Linked DNA regions of Homo sapiens: region 2 is linked to region 1. The links come from fine-mapping of genetic effects on gene expression. A gene starts in region 1. The other region holds a variant in brackets. All regions are shown on one strand. Distances are between the middles of the regions.

The links.
Region 2: its variant is fine-mapped to the expression of ARPP21 in subcutaneous fat (FUSION, PIP 0.92).

What each region holds. Positions count from the first base shown.
Region 1 is chr3:35,638,017-35,640,929 of GRCh38, reverse strand. ARPP21 (cAMP regulated phosphoprotein 21) reads right to left here and starts at 1,405. Exons shown (of 21, transcript NM_001385562.1): 1 at 532-1,405.
Region 2 is chr3:36,554,499-36,557,411 of GRCh38, reverse strand. No RefSeq gene overlaps it. Among named protein-coding and RNA genes, the nearest start is that of STAC, 180 kb to the right of the region's middle. The variant G/A (reference allele first, on the strand shown) is at 1,714.

The DNA.
Region 1 (2,913 bases):
AAACACCTGCCTAATTCAACTCAATTCTACCACCATATCTACAACCTGAGACAGAAAAGAGTAAATTGGCGATTGCAATGAAGCACAGATTTCATGCATGTAAAAATAAAACTGAACATCTTTTCTATTCTTCCCCTTGAGCCCTTTGGGACCTAGGACCCCAATCCTTCCAGGACAACAAACAGAGTATAACTTTCTACCTCTTCAATAGGTCTCTTTCAAAAAGAGCATTGCAAACTTTCTACCATAAAGCCTATACAAATCACTGTAGACTTCTCTGATGAAAATCATTGCCAACTTCCAGCTTTCCATTTCTGTCTTTTCTGGGGGAAGGAGCGTCCATCCCTCCTTGACGAAACATAAAAAACACAATACATGTATAACAACATCAGCTTTCTACAAACACGAAGAAGAAATACAGACAAGAAAAAATTCAAAAGAAACAGACAGATATATGGCAGAAAGAAAGAAGGAATTCTAAAAATCCACAAAAGGCGTGCAATGTTCACGTCGGAAGACCTTGATTATTACCTTGATCGAACTGTGGATATCCCCCCTGCGTCTTGGTGCCTTGATTGGTTTGATTTAGTTTTGGATTTTATTAATATTATTGTTTCTCAATGATTGATTTGGCTGGATTTGTTTGTTTTGGCTTTTGGCTTGGCTTTTGTTGTTGTTGTTGTTGTTGGGTTTGTTTGTTTGTTTTGTTTTTGGTCGATTTATTTAACTGCTAGTAAAAGGAGCTTTCTGCAGTGTCGGCTGGGATCCCACACAGCTGTGGCAGCCAGGGCTGCGGCGGCGGCTCGGTCGCGGCTTGTGTCCCCGCTGCCCCTGCTGCTGCTGGTCTCTGCTCCGGACGCGCTCAGAAGGTGCCACCGCCGCCTTCTCTGGCCGGCTGGCCGCCGGGAGTGAACGCGCCCCCGCCTCCTGTCTGCTCTTCTGTCCGTCTGCACGTCTGTCAGTCCGACCGTCTGTGGGTCCGACTAGCAGCTCGGCGCGGGATTCTCGCTTTGCTGCGCTCTGCTCTCAAAGCTGCCACTCTCGCAGGCTGCCAGTCTGTGCGCTGGTCTGTCCGTCCGTCCGAATCCCTCCGTCCCACCAGCAATGCAGCGTCCCTCTTCCGGTCTTCTGTGCCCACAGTCCTCTCCCACTCTGTGCCCCTGGCCGCTTCGCTCGGTAAGAGGAGGGCGTGTGGAGGGAGGGAGCACGCGAGTGTTGCTGTCTATCTTTCTGTGTGCCTCTCCCTGCCTACTTAATGCTCTCGCTCTCTTTGCGTTCTGGTCTCCCTCTCTCAGGCTGTCTGACTGCTCCCACCTGTCCGTAGCTCTGCCAGTCCCACCCCTAGCCAGCCAGCCTCGGTCGATCCCTCGGTCCCGTTCCTCCAGCTTGGCCGCCTCCGTCGTCTGCCCCTCCGCCGGTCCGTGCCCTCCCACGCGGCTGGCACTGCCGCCGGGGGCGGCGCCCGGCTCCTCCCCGCAGCTCCGGATGCGTCCGGTCCCCGCCCGGGCTGAGGGCAACGCGCGTGTTGCACGTGGCTCCACAGCTGCTCTGGCCGGAGACCCCGGGCCCCAGACCCGCCACACCCGGGAGGTGGCGGCAGCCGGACGCCTGCCAGTGTCGCCGCCTCTGCGCCACTGGGAGCATCCAGAACTGGCCCATCCAGAGTGATGGCACCTGCTGGGTGCGCCGGGCGCCCGCGGTACCACTCATTCCCTGGGCCGTTCTCCGCCAGCCCTAAGGCTGGAGACAAAGCGCATGAGCCACGCGCAGCAGCGTGAGCATCATTAATCAGAAAGAAAACTGGCACGTTGCCCCCTGCCCCGCCACACCGCCTCCCTGCTCCCAGCGAGCAGGCATGTATTCTCTCTTGTCCCCCGTGCCCAGGCCCTCCAGCGTACCCGTCTCGGGGGCGCCCCTGGACTCCTGGGGACTCTTGACGAAGCCTTGTTCCACTCCCTCCACCGCTCACTCTCCAGGCCAACTCTGCAGAGACAATCCCACAATAATAACACCTCGCCCCACCCGAATGAATCCGTAGCCTCAGCGCTCTTGGAGATTCTTTGCTTTGAGCAAGACTGAAAGTCCGAACGTGCAGCACCAAGTGTACTCCCTGTGGGTGACTGCCCAGACCGCTGCCCACCTGATCGCTGATTTGGAATCACAGAGGTGCCACAGAAACCTGGGCAGGGTAGGACCTGGGGAAGGAACAGAGTTGACACCTGAAGAAATAAAAGCCTTGATTTTACCGCTTGTTCTAGAGATGCACTATTTTTATTGTCTGTAATTCATTGTTTTTTTTCATTGTCTCGGAGCACTCACTAACACACTACAAGGAAGGAAAAAAAAAAAAAAAGGAAAAGGCGTAGTGAAGGAGAGTGAATAAATTTCCGGAATTCCACCTACTCCTTCTGAGTGAATGTAGAGCCTACTTTTCCAACATTATAGGTCACCAGCCAAGATATACCACTCTAGCTTTCTGCTCCCAGCTGAGAGCAAGGCATTTGATTCTGGGCTTCTTTGCAAGGTTGTTATTAATGTGCAGCAAAATTATAGTTGTACACTCACACATGGAATTGCCAAAGCTCATTTTGACTATATCCAGCAATTCAGCTTCTGAAATGTAGACACTGAATAACTGTGTATCTGGCGAAATGAACGCCCCATCCCACAATAAACTGAAGAGGAGAAAATCAACTTTTACCAGTTGTAATTAGTAACCCCATGAATAGACAACAAACAAATAACTAGCATAAAACATGTTATGAAATTTTCCACATCCTTTTAGTTTCACTTATTGACACCCAACCATAATGACAGAGATTACAAACAGATTTATTAACATAAATGCCTTTGCATTATTATAGAAATGTGATTTCTACAGCTATGGCTGTGTTCATATACGCTAAGATATTG
Region 2 (2,913 bases), 920 kb before region 1:
AGAGGCTGGACTTGCTTCTGTATCCCTGGGGAAGCCCTTGGAGGGTTTTTAACAGGGTGACAACAGGATCAAAGTGATACTTTAGGAGGATGATTCTGGCTTTGAGGTTGGCTCTGGGGAAGAACCACCACCAAAAAAGGCATTGCAATGGTGGAGGAGCTATGAGCACACGGTGCCAGCAGGTTGCTGCCAAACAGGCTGCCTGACCTTGCTGTGCTGCCATGGGTCTCTTGTTGTTGCCCTATATGGCTACAGACTGCCACTCAGTCACAGCCTCCCTCATTGCTAGCCTGCTCCTCTCTTGTTCCTAAAAGTGTCTTCCCTTCTGTTTCAGCTCTCCCAATACCAACTCTGTCTTCCCCCCAACACCAGTTAGAACCCTTACTGAATGTCACTTTCACCTATACTTCATGATGTCCCATAAACTTCTTCTTGGGTTCCTTCACCTACCTATATCACCCCAAGCATGTTATATTCTTGTTTCCCGCAGTCTTCTCTTGCTTAGAGACCTCTTTCTCTCATGCTTTATCAGTTACTCATTGCTGGTAATGATTGATCTGTGTTGAGATATAAATATATAATGTATTCGAGAAATAAATTACAGGCTAAGGTGGAAATGCTCATATGTCATCATCTCCTTATCATCAGACCAGAGCTTATCTTCGGCGCTGCTTTGCTTTCCCAGGTCACACAAAGCCAGCGGTCACTGCGACCAAAATTTACGCCTTCCCTGCTGAGAAAAACAAGAACTGGGAGGAGAAAAACAGATTTTTAATATTCATCTCTGGAGGCTATGAAGTTTACAAGACATAAGAAAGGTATTATTTCCTCAAGGAGGTGGAATATTTCTGAGTGTGGTAGTCTCTGGATGGTGGTGGAGGTGGGGACAGAAGGGTTAAAGAGAGAGGTAAGAAAAGAGAGGCCTAGGCACTGAGACTGCTTCTTGTGTAAAAAACAGGTAGGGACTGGCTTTGAAATCAATCAACTGACTCAAAGAAGAAATAACTGCTTAAATCTTTATCAGAGTGCAGTATAAATTCCATCTGAGTGTGTGTGTGTGCGCGTGCGTGTACGCGTGTGTGCATGTATGTGTGTAGACACACATGCTGGAATTCCTTGCCTTCTGATTAGAACATGCACTGCAGTAGCATCCTCAGTGTAGGCTCCAAGGTGGCAGGGACAGTGTGCCCTTGGATATAGTCCTAGTGGCCAAACTGAGGAATCTTTCCCCACTTCTCTCATCCGAGGCTACCTTGGCCAAGGAGATGATAACTTTCCTACACTGGTTACACATTACCACCATGCTATTGGATTTTTTCCATTCTCCTTAGCTGGCTTTTTCTGAGCTTTGGGAGCTCAATATTCTTTAGGCATAACAATGGGGTTCAGTTAAATTTCTCTTGTTATCTCTCCACCTTTCCAAGTGGCAGTGCAATGCTGTATGTTTCCTGTTGGTGCTGTAACAAATGACTACAAACTTAGTGGCTTAAACAATCCAAGTGTGTTATCTTAGAACAATGGAGATCAGAGGTCCTTAATGAGTCTCATTGGACTAGGGGTACAGGGGGCTCTCTTCAAAGTTTCAAGAAAGTTCAGCTGTGGTCCAGCTTGCAGGCTCCTCAGCAAAACCAAAGCCCTAGAGGTAACAGGAACTACCCTTTCTAGAAGTCAGGTTAGCATCAATCTGCTGTTACTTCAGCTGGTGCATTGAGG[G/A]TCTCACACTTCAAACCAAGGGCTCTTCAAGTATTTCTTCCTTCAGTAGACACAGAGCTGAGTACAATCTGCTCAGTCTTGCTACATTTTTGGTGATTCTTCATTGCCTGGTGCTGCCCCATCCCCACACGACAGCTTGCTGTATCTGGAACCTCATCTGAATCCTGCTACTGCCCTCTTGGCTGAGTCCTTGGACCCTCATTGTCCCATTCTTTTTATTTTACTTTAGAGGCAAGGTCTCACTATGTTGTCTAGGCTGGAATGCAGTGGACCAATCATAACTCATTGCAGCCTCAAACTCCTGGGCTCAAGTGACCCTCCTGCCTCAGCCTTCCAAGTGGCTAGGACTACAGGTGCATGCCATCATGCCCGGCCTAACCTCCTTGTTCCACTCTTTTTCTGCAGAGTACACTATACTCCTCAGATGGCTGATTCTCCTGTGAGTGCAATAGATGTTTCTTGGTCTTGAAAGCTCATAGATTTATTCCCAGCACTGGATCAACACAATTTGCCCTGCACTGCTTCATTGCATTGAATTTTATGTTTTTAATATCACATCTGCAAAAGTTGTAAACTAATTTCTTAGTATTTAATGTCTTGGCTCTCCCCCCATCCCCCAGCTGCCTGTGATTGAAAGGGAGAAAAACAACTTTGGCAGCACTAGGGGTGAGCAGTTTCATGTTTGGGATCTCTCTATACCACGAAGGCTCTTGTGAGATCCATCATGAATGACAGGAATTTGGCCCAAATCACAAGATGCCTGTGATTTAAAAAAACAGACAAACCTGGTTCCCTTGGTTGTGAAGAAGCATATATATTTGTTTCCATTTTGGTGATGTTTTAACCCTTATTATTCTATAAATAATTTTCTTCTGGGGTCCTAAACATCAGGACAGATGTGGGAAGGATGGGGCCTTACCTGGATGGATTATTCTTCTTAGGACATTTCTCTAGAGATGAGACATGAACCTAAACCCTCTTTGGAATTATATGTTGCATAAGTCAGCAGCCTCTTTCTCCTGTGGCCTCCATCATGCCTCTACCTAATCCCATCCCCTCTTCCTCACCAGCTCCTCTATCCCTCTCCCAATCTTCTGGTAATACTGCTAATATTGCTCAAATACTCAAACACTCCAGCATGAAGGGCCCACACAATTGGAAATATTTGTGTTAAAAAGTAAAAAAAAAAAAAAAAACCCA